2 separate regions of the Homo sapiens genome follow, and region 2 is linked to region 1. A link means that fine-mapping ties the variant in region 1 to the expression of a gene that starts in the linked region. Tissue or cell type: whole blood. Region 1 holds a variant in brackets; the other region holds the start of a gene. Each region is shown on its reference strand, or each on the opposite one.

Region 1 (5,382 bases):
AATCTCTGAAAGTATGACATTAGATTCCAGTATGACAATTATATGATGCACTTTACCCTTCTTAGTACTTGATTTACTCTATTTTTGCCAACATTGTATCTAAGTGAAACCAAAGGCTTTGCTTTTGAATCTCTCCCAAAGTTAGAGTAAAAGGGCTAAGATAAAGGTAGCCCGATTCTCAGGGCACTCTCTTAAATTCTTGTGGTATATCAAAACATCATTTTGTAGTTGTTGTTCAGATGGATGTGAAAGGAACTAAGAGCCTGGAGTGAACATAGGCTTCCCAAAAGGGTAAGTAAATACAGGAATTGCAAATGTGCAGCGTTCTGAGGAGTGGACCTGTGCCCATTAGATTTTAGTTTTTGTGAGTCTATGGAAGCTTGCATTATAAATGAAGAGGAATAATAATACAGAAAGAAATATCAGACAGTAAACCCTGCAAGGAGAGGACGGAGAACTGACCAGTGGAAAAAATATAAATGCCCTTAAAAGCGAAAGTGTTGAAATCATTTATATGATTATCCTTTAACCCTCTCAAATCAAGTTCAAAGGAGCAGCTTAGTTATTACTATTTAATTGTTTTGCTGATACTTTTTCGTATCTCAGTAACTTTTAAAGCAGCTGTTTCCAGCCCTTTAAACTTGAGGACTTTTTTTGCTTATTTGTGGTGGTGGATATCATGAAAATGATGCATGGACTTTTTTTTTTTTAACTCATCAGCTATCGTTACGTTAGTGTATTTTATGTGTGGCCCAGGACAAGTCTTCTTCTTCCAATGTGGCCAAGGGAAGCCGAAAGGTTGGAGACTAATGTTTTAAAGCATCCAGTTAATTTTTACACTTACAGCTATATATGGCAAGACCAGCTCACTGTATGTATGATAACTTATGGAATCTAGTTACCAATCCAGTTGCAGTTTTGATATTATAATTATTGATTCCTTCATTTAAAGATACTCCAGTGTTACAGATGCTCCAAGATCTGGTGTGACAAAATACCAAAAATTGTCAATTTCTTGTAAACAGTTAGAAGAATAATAGAGATTTTAAAGATTTAATCAGGCCCACAAAAATAGTTAAAAGAGAAAATCAGCAAAAGTAAAATTCTGAATTCAAGTTATCCCTTCAATGTCATGCTTGGAATTGATAAATTCTTCTTCTATATATGTAGCCAACCTAATGGCCAATACATTATCAGAAATTCAAGGAAATCTTGCACATTTGAAATCAGACAATATGTCACTGACTGGCGACTTTGCAGGTAAAGAAAACAGAAAAGGCATGCCATTGACCTTTTATATATAGTAACATTTGTATTATGATCTGACTTCAATAAGCCCACATTGACATAGGGTCATTATGATGTTGCAGGAAAAGCTACCTTTTAAAGTACTCTCTATTGCTTATTTCTTAAAAAATTAACCTACAGCATCTAAAAAAAAACCTTTCATTTTGAATTTCCCTATGCTACAAACATCATCCTTGGGTTCATTTGTTAATGAATATGGCATAGTATCCACATTATTATATTAAAATTGCTGTAAAATAATAGTAAATGAAGAAAAGAAGTAATAAGATAATTAGATGCATGAAACTTCTATCACACATCATCTGTCATTTCACATGTATAAATCTATACAATTTGTAAAGTAAGGAATCATTACAAAATTCTACACTTCCCCATAGCACCAGCAATGAATTTTGCTGAGTAAGAGAAGACCAAAAGTACCCTTTAAGATTTGCATCTACTGCTTTTGCCTTTATTCCTATTGTTCTTAGACTTCACTCTCTATGAAACAATGTTCTTTCAGTACTGTTTTCTTTCTTCAATCATATTTCTAAGAATCGTGCTTTTGAAATTTCTAATTGAAATAGTAAAATGTGTTTCAGCTATTTTTAAGAAAAAATATAGTACTTTGTATTGAATATTATCTATATTTTTGGGTTCGATATTTTTCAATGCTAGATTAATGCGGGAAGGGTAGAGAGAGTCAGAAAAGAATTAACGATGTAAAATAATTCATAATATACATTGTTTTTCCTAGTTCTACTTTTGTCACTTTTGATACTGAAAGGAAGGTGTATGCTTTCAAATTCAGTTATACTTGGAGTGTAAAGCTGTTGCAGGGTTGAAAAAAAGCGTTCGTCAATATCCTGGGGACCCATGCTTACTTCACTTTTGTTTAAACTAACATTGAAATCTAACATTTATCATGGAACAACTCAGAATCTGGAAAACTCCATATAAAATATCAGCCACAGAAATTTTTATAATGAAGGGTACTTCAATGTCTATTTCAAAACTGATTTGATGAATAAAAAAAAGGTCAAACTAAAAATAAATAGATCAAATCAGTTATAAGTGTAGTAACATATGCCCCATTTAATAACGAACTCTAAATTGGCAGCACAGTTTAAGTAGTATCATGAATGCTAATTCTGACAGCAAAGGGTTATGAACTACCTGTCGACTTGCACCCATCACAAGGTCAGGCAGCTATGAGCTAATGAAACCCTGAAGTACCAGAAGGTGAATGACTGACGTGACTAGGCTGGTGGGAAGAAACTGCTGTAGCATGGTGGCACATACAGAATGACATGGTGTCCTGAAATAGAAATGACTGTGATCCCATCTGTTTATAAAGTCTACTTGCTGAAGTTAAAACCTCCCTATCTAAGCAACGTATTTCCTAGGGGATAATTTTTTTACATCCATAAACATTCAGATGTTACAAGTGCTAAACATGTTCAGATTCTCCTTACATATGTGGTTTGCTATTTCTAAAAGGTTTCATTAAATATTTCTGACA[T/C]GTTGAGTAACAATCAAGAATCGCATGTGGAGATTGTAGATCACATAATCGGTTTTACACAACAGCAGATACAAAATTTCTGAAAATGATGATGTCCACAAAGACTTGTTTTAAAAACCTAGTGTCCATGATAGTGATCAAATGGAAATATAATTTATGCTTGTTAAAATTCAGAAAATCAAAGCAAGCCCTAAGCACTAAAGCTCTGATAAAAGCTAAGGCTGTTAATGGGAACATACTTTTAAATTATCAAGTCTGCACTTTTATCATATCCTTCAACTATTTAAAACTCATGAAAACAAATCAGTTTTCTGCTTGTATCACTCTTTTTAAGGACTTCTTTATAGCCCTGACATGTTTTTTCCTGCTTATATAGATGGCTTAATTGTATCTTGGAAGTGAAATATAACAACAATAACAGCAAAAAAGAGGAGGAAATGAATGACTTTTGTAAATAGTTCTTATTCCAGAGAGCAATGTTAAGACAAAAAGAAATTAGATGAAGTAAAATGTATGCACATGCTCTTTTACACACACATGCACACACTGACACTAGTGAGCATTTAGAGTATATATTTAAAATTATTAGCTTCTTATTCCTTTAGGAAATCTTAATAACATTGGTATGGTATAGTACTATCAATGTTTGGTAAAGTTTATTTCTTCTTAGTCAAGAAATGGCTTTAAGTTGAAACTAGATTCCAACATAACTAACCTAGGTTTGGTTAGGACTTAGAAAATTGGAGGAAAACCACAGAATTATCAATACTTTTATCAGTCTTTAGGCTTTTTTCTAATGCACAAGCTATAATTGTGACAACAAATTACAACAATCCCTATATCTATAATTGAGCATATTTCCAATTTACCAAAAGAAAGCATTTTGAGTAGTTAACTGCAATTAGCTTGTGATGTCGCAAAACAGAGGAGCCTGAGAATTGGGGCTTAGTCCAAAAAATAATTCAAGGATGAGCCACTGGTATTAGACAGCAATCTTTTATTGCACTGTACTGCTCCCTTGAGAAGCAGGGCTAACTCATAGGCCATGCACCCGGAGTGGGTCAACCACTGGGCTTTGGGCAATTGCTTTTCTACTCACATAAAGCCACTTTCAATTACATGCAAATTAAGGAGTCCGTCAGTGCAAATAGAAGGGTGGGTTATCTAGAGCTTGCTAGGAAAGGGTTGGTAACTTCTGGGTCAATGCCATGGAAAGGAGTGGTAACTTCTGGGTCATTGCCATGGCATTTGTAAACTGTGATGGTGTTGTTGGGAGTGTCCTATGCTAATGAGCAATAAGGGGAGCTAGGGATTGCTTTCCACATCACCCGCTGGTAGCTGCCAATTTCTTTACTTCATCCTCTGGACCAGACACTGTTTTGGTCAGCACAGTTGTGACCAGAAAACAAGTTCTGCTGGTCTCATGCTCGGTGGGAATAAGTTCATACCTCTTAATGATATCAGAGGTGATCAAAAATAATTTTGGAGCCCCTACTATGTGTGTGGCACCAAGAAACAAAATACTGAAAAAAAAAAAAAGCATTTGGTGGCAGGCAGTGACTCATGCCAGTAATCCCAGCTCTTTGTGAGGTCAAGGCAGACAGATTGTTTAGGAGTTCCAGTTCCAGACCAGTCTGGGCAACATGGTAAAACCCCATATCTACAAATACAAAAAAAGAATAATAAAACAAAACATCAACTCTCATGAGGATTACAGTTCATGTAGATGTTAATCAAATAATACAAAAAAAATGAAATTTAGACAAAGATTTAAATACATACTTTAGATAGATGTTAATCAAATGATGGCATGACTTCTTGTATAATGATCAACTGAGCTACTTTCTACACAACATGTGGCATAGGGCAGTAGGAAACATGATTCTACTAAAAATATAACTGAGAAAAATGACCCAGTTTAGAGGATTAGGGAAGGTGTCCAACATATATTAGAATTTAACTACTACCTCAAGTCAAGTATGACTTAATTAGACAAGTGGATGTACTAAGATAAACCTGCTCAAGAAGAAACTAGCATGAGCCAGAACCCCATATTGATGCACAAGTCATCTTCCAAGAAATGAAGGAAGGCCAGTGTGGGAGAGAGAAGGAGAGCAAGTGGATGAAACTGGCGATGCTGAAGGGCCACAGTGTGTAGCGCCTGGCCAGTCAGTTTAAGGATCTCGTTCTTTATCTAAAGCCCAGTGAGAAACTGGGAAAATTTTAGGAATGTTGGAGCCATGTAAGTCAAATTTAAACACAAGCATCCATGGATGTAAAAGAGACTTAAAAACATAACTGAAGTGGACAGTGGAAAGAAGGGTCAGACTGCAATAAGGCTCTTTATGATGCCTGAGATGAGACTAGAGAGAAAAGTAGGGGTGAAAATATATAAGTCATGCTGGTATAATGCTGTAAATGACAAATAATAGTTATCAATGGAGACATTGGTGGGACTGCTTTGGGGAAATTGTTGTGAAACCAGAACTCATTTTAGAGTGGGTTGAATGGTGAATGGGAAGTAAAGAGAAGACAATTGCTGAAGTAATACAGATAATCTTAGGACACTTAGG
Region 2 (5,382 bases), not on the chromosome of region 1:
CCCGTCTCTACTAAAAAATACAAAAAAATTAGCTGGGCATGGTGGCGGGTGCTTGTAATCTGAGGCAGGAGAATCGCTTGAAACCGGGAGGTGGAGGTTGCAATGAAATGAGATCGTGCCACTGCACTCTAGCCTGGGTGACAGAGGGAGAACTCCATCTCAAAAAAAAAAAAAAATGTAGGCCAGGCATGGTGCTCATGCCTATCCCAGCACCATTTAGGAGGAAGTGGCAGGAAGATCACTTGAGCCCAGTTTGAGAACAGCCTGGGCACCATAGTGATAGCCTGTCTTTTTTTTTTTTTTTTTTTTTTCCCGAGACGGAGTTTCGCTCTTGTTGCCCAGGCTGAAGTGCAATGGTGCGATCTCAGCTCACCGCAACCTCCGTCCCCCGGGCTCAAGTGATTCTTCTGTCTCAGCCTCCCAAGTAGCTGGGATTACAGGCATGCGCTACCACGCCCAGCTAATTTTGTATTTTTAGTAGAGACGGGGTTTCTCTATGTTGGTCAGGCTGGTCTCCAACTCCCAACCTCAGGTGACCTGTCCACCTCGGCCTCCCAAACTGCTGGGATTACAGGCAAGAGCCACCGCGCCCAGCCGATCCTGTCTTTTTATTTAAAAAAAAAAAAAAAAAGGCCAGGCAGGCCGGGTGCAGTGGCTCACGCCTGTAATCCCAGCGTTTTGGGAGGCCCAGGCAGGTGGATCACTCGCATGCAGGAGTTTGGGACCAGCCTGGGTAACATGGTGAAACCCTGTCTCTAGAAAAAATACAAAAATTAGCTGGACATGGTGGTGCATGCCTGTAGTCCCAGCTACTTGGGAGGCTGAGGTGGATGGATCGCTTGAGCCTGGGAGGTAGAGGCTGCAGTGAGCCTTTATCATGCCACTGCACTCCATCCTGGGTGATAGACCTTGTATCATAAAAATAAATAGCCAGGTGTGGTGGTTCACTCCTGTAGTCTCAGCACTTCGGGTGGCCAAGGTGGGAAGCTCACTTGAGCCCAGGAGTTCCAGACCAGCCTGGGCAACATGGAGAAACCCTACTTCTACAAAAAAATACAAAAATTAGCTGGGCGTTGTGCACGCTTGTAGTCCTAGTTACTCGGGAGGCGGAGGCAGAATTGCTTGAGCCCAGGGGGCGGAGGTTGCAGCGAGCTGAGATTGAGCCACCGCACTCCAGCCTGGGTGACAGAGGGAGACTGTCACACACACACACACAAGAATGTAAATGGCAGCAACTGAATAGTGAGAATGAGACGAATTTTCCTAGGTATTTTTCAAGTACTGGGAGAAGTGAATTTCCCTTTCCCCAAAGAATTTTAAAATTACAGTGGCTTTCACTGTGTTGAGGACTTACAAAAAAGGGCAAAGAATCACTGTTGGTAAGATATTCTTTTACCTGAGCATTCTGTAGAATGTTGTTAACCAAGACAACGCGTCGCCGGGCATTAAGTAGCTTCTTAACATAGGGGTCAAGATCCAGGGCCACCTTCTGATCCTCATTTATGCGGCACAGTTCTGGGGATGGAAGTAAGGTGCAGCTAAGATCTAACGGCTTATCTCTTGTTCTGAGGGAAAGCAGGCTGGTAATGGGATGGAAAACACTTGCACCCAAACGGGCCACAGCCATTAGAGATTTAAGACATCCCTGAAAGGAGGAGTCCTTTGGCAGCCCTGATGCCCTGGAAGCAAGTGACAGAAACTCAGCCCAGGGGTTGGCAAAAACCTAAGGTCCTGAAAGTGGGCTGAAGAATTCCGGGTACACAGGGATGCTCACTCACCTGTGGCTAGGTTGTCAATTTGTTCCCGGAGCTCTACCTGGCTCTCTCTGCAAAGAGGTACAAGGCCTACAAGGTCAGGCAGTTACCGGAGCTCAGGAAACGAACTCCCCTACGTATTTACCAAGTACTGAGAGAAGCCGGCCTCCGCTGAACCCTCCACCTGCGGCCTTCCCGCCTGTCCTCCCCGCCTCGAATCAGTTTCCTAAATTTATGCCCACTCCCAGCCAGAACACTTTCTTGGCCCCGCCCCTACAAAGCCAGAGAGACAGGCCCCGCCCCCAACTTCCCTCCCGGGCACCTGACGGCGTGTACGTGAGAGTCGAGCTGCTGCACAGCGGGTCGCAGGAACTCCAGCAGCCCTTCGGCGAAAAGGTCGCGGCCTGTGGGCCCCGCCACCGGGGTCCCTGCCCCCGATACAGCGGCGGAACCAGCCCCCGCCATCACGAATTGTCCTGAAGCCCGAAACCTGCCGCGAGGGCCGCCGGGAACCGGAGCCGCGCCGCACTGCCCCGCCCCGTGAGGGGGCGCCCGGGAAATGCTGTCTCCACCAAGACACCGGGGTTTCTGGGAAATGGAGTCTAGCGCGAACCGGGCGGGGAGGAGGGCCAGGCCGTAGGAGTAGAGGCCTTGTGGCTGGTCTTGAAAATCTCCAAAGTTCAGGTTGTAGAAAGGAACCAGTTTTTGGAGTGGATACTTTTCGTTTTCTTTAAAGGTGAAAATAAACGCGAATACCTGCAGTTGTCCATAGCCTTCCCATGTTAACTTTATGAGATAGCCGGGCATGGTGGCGGGCACCCAGCTACTTGGGAGACTGAGGCAGGAGAACCGCTTGAACCCGGGAGGCGGAGATTGCAGTGAGCCGAGATCGCGCCACTGCACTCCAGTCTGGGCAACAGAGAGACTCCGCCTCAAAAAAAAAAAAAAAAAAAAAAAAAGCAACCCAAACCAAACAAAAACAAACCAAAAACAAAAACACTTTATGAGAAAGCCACATTATATTCATAGTATCGTTTTCTATTTCTAAAGAGTTTATTGTGGTTGGTTGTTTTTAAGACAAGGTCTCTCTCTGTCGCCTAGGCTGGAGTGCAGTGCCACCGTCTTGGCTCACTGTAGCCTTCACCTCCTGGGGTCAAGAGGTCCTCCTGCTTCAGTCTCCCAAGTAGCAGGGACCACAGGTGTTAGCCACCATGCCTGACTAATTTTTCATTTTCTGTAGAGAAGAGGTCTCACTATGTTTGTTGCCCAGACTGGTCTCGAACTCCTGGGCTCAGGTGATCCTCCCAACTCAGCCTCCTAAAGTGCTGGGATTACAGACGTGAGCCACCACGCCTGGTCTATTTCTAAAGAGTATATTTTTAATGGCATTAAATATGTAAAAAACTGCATGTATCCGAATTTCATTCCTTTTTAAGGCTGAATAATATAAACATGCAGGCAGGGCATGGTGGCTCACTCCTGTAATCCCAGCACTTTGGGAGGCTGAGGCGGGAGGATCACCTGAGCCCAGGAGTTCGAGATCAGTCTGGGCAACAAACCTAGTGAGACTCTGTCTCTACAGGAAATAAAAAATTAGCCAGGCGGCCAGGCGCAGTGGCTCACGCCTGTAATCCCAGCACTTTGGGAGGCCGAGGCGGGTGGATCACGAGGTCAGGACATCGAGACCACGGTGAAACCCCATCTCTACTAAAAATACAAACAATTAGCCGGGCGCAGTGGCGGACTCCTGTAGTCCCAGCTACTCGGGAGGCTGAGGCAGGAGAATGGCGTGAACCCGGGAGGCAGAGCTTGCAGTGAGCCCTGATCGCGCCACTGCACTCCAGCCTGGGCGACAGAGCGAGACTCCATCTCAAAAAAAAAAAAAAAAAAAAAAATTAGCCAGGCATGGTGGCTCACAGCTGTGGTCCCCGCTACTTGGGAGGCTGAAGTAGGAGGACCTTGAGCCTAGGAAGTTGAGGCTACAGTGAGCCAAGATCGTGGCACTGCATGCACTTCAGCCTGGGTGACAGGGTGAGACCCTGTCTCAAAAAATAAAAATTAAAAAAAATTTTTTTTTGAGACCGAGTCTTGCTCTGTCACCCAGGCTGGAGTGCAGTGGTGCAATCTCGCTCACTGCAAGCTCCGCCTCCCGGGTTCATGCCATTCTCCTGCTTCAGCCTCCCGAGTAGCTGGGACTACAGGCGCCCACCACCACGCCCGGCTAATTTTTTGTATTTTTAGTAGAGATGGGGTTTCACCACGTTAGCCGGGATGGTCTCGATCTCCTGACCTCGTGATCCACCCGCCTCGGCCTTCCAAAGTGCTAGGATTACAGGCATGAGCCACCGCGCCCGGCCATAAAAATAAATTTTAAAGTTTCCTTAGTTCACTTATTTTTCCTTTCATTTTTAGAGACAAGGTCTCACTCTGTTGCTGAGGCTGGAGTGCAGTGATGTTATCATAGCTCACTGTAACCTCAAACTTCTGGGCTCGAGCCATCCTCCTGCCTCAGCCTCCTAAGTAACTGGGACTACAGTCACCTGCCCCCATGCCTGGCTAATTTTTTAAATTTTTTTGGTACAGGCAGGGTCTCCCTATGTTGCCCAGGCTGTTCTCGAACTCCTGGCCTCAAGACACCCTTCCATGGTTTTCTTTTTCCCTGAGAATTATGAAGACAATGATTCCTTCCTTAGTTTAGTTCGGTTTGGTTTTTCATGGCTTTCCAGATAATTTACATCTGTCTCCTAGGCTCTAATGTGTTCCCGTGGCTCCCAATTCCCTAGGCCATGGGGAAGGATGTATGAGCAGAAATGCTCCTGGAGGACAGGCAAAGGCATCCATAGTGATAAATGGGCACCAGAACGTTCAGCTTTGAGCTTCATCTTCAGTAATAAAGGAAGATAAGGCATTTGAATCACTGTGAGATTTGGTGGTCAGCAGCTCTAAACCTAAGACCCCAACTGTGATAACTTTTTTTTTATTATTATTTTTTGTAGAGACGAGGCCTCCCTATGTTGCCCAGGCTGGTCTTGAACTCCTGCATCAAGCAGTCCTCCCACCTCGGCCTCCCAAAGTGCTGGGATTACAGGCGTGAGCCACCAAGCCCAGCCCCAACTGTGATAACTTTTAAAACCTTATACACTTACACTGGGTGGGGTGGCTCATGCCTGTAATCCCACCACTTTGGGAGGCTGAGGCGGGAGGATTGCTTGAAGCCAGGAGTTCAAGACCGGCCTGTGCAACATAGGGAGACTCCCATCTCTACAAAAAAATTAATAAAAAAAATAACTGGGCATGGTGGCACACACCTGTAGTTCCTGCTACTCGAGAGGCTGAGGTGGGAGGATCACTTGAGCCTGGGAGGTAGAGGTTGCAGTGAGCTGTGATCATGCCACTGCACTCCAGCCTGGGTGAAAGAGCAAGACTCTGTCTCACACACACACACACCAAAAACCACCTTATACACTTTTTGTCGTTGATTACGTTTGTATCCCTGTATCTTCCTCTCTGGTGATTAGAGGTAAAGCTCTTGCGAGAGGCTAGGAGCTTATTTTGGGAGTAAGTGGCAAGGCAACTGCAACCTGCTTCACAGTCAGGCCTTGGGAAAAGGAAGCCCAGGGGAGAAAGT

The links. PIP is the estimated chance that this variant, and not a neighbour inherited with it, causes the effect.
Region 2: it holds the start of SNAPIN, and the variant in region 1 is fine-mapped to the expression of SNAPIN in whole blood (TOPMed, PIP 0.90).

The regions. Positions count from the first base shown.
Region 1 is chr13:54,883,573-54,888,954 of GRCh38, reverse strand. No RefSeq gene overlaps it. Among named protein-coding and RNA genes, the nearest start is that of LINC02335, 170 kb to the left of the region's middle. The variant T/C (reference allele first, on the strand shown) is at 2,810.
Region 2 is chr1:153,655,581-153,660,962 of GRCh38, reverse strand. It overlaps SNAPIN (SNAP associated protein), which reads right to left and starts at 2,260. Exons shown (of 4, transcript NM_012437.6): 1 at 2,077-2,260; 2 at 1,779-1,825; 3 at 1,397-1,515. The coding sequence starts at 2,219. RefSeq lists an enhancer at 2,415-2,494.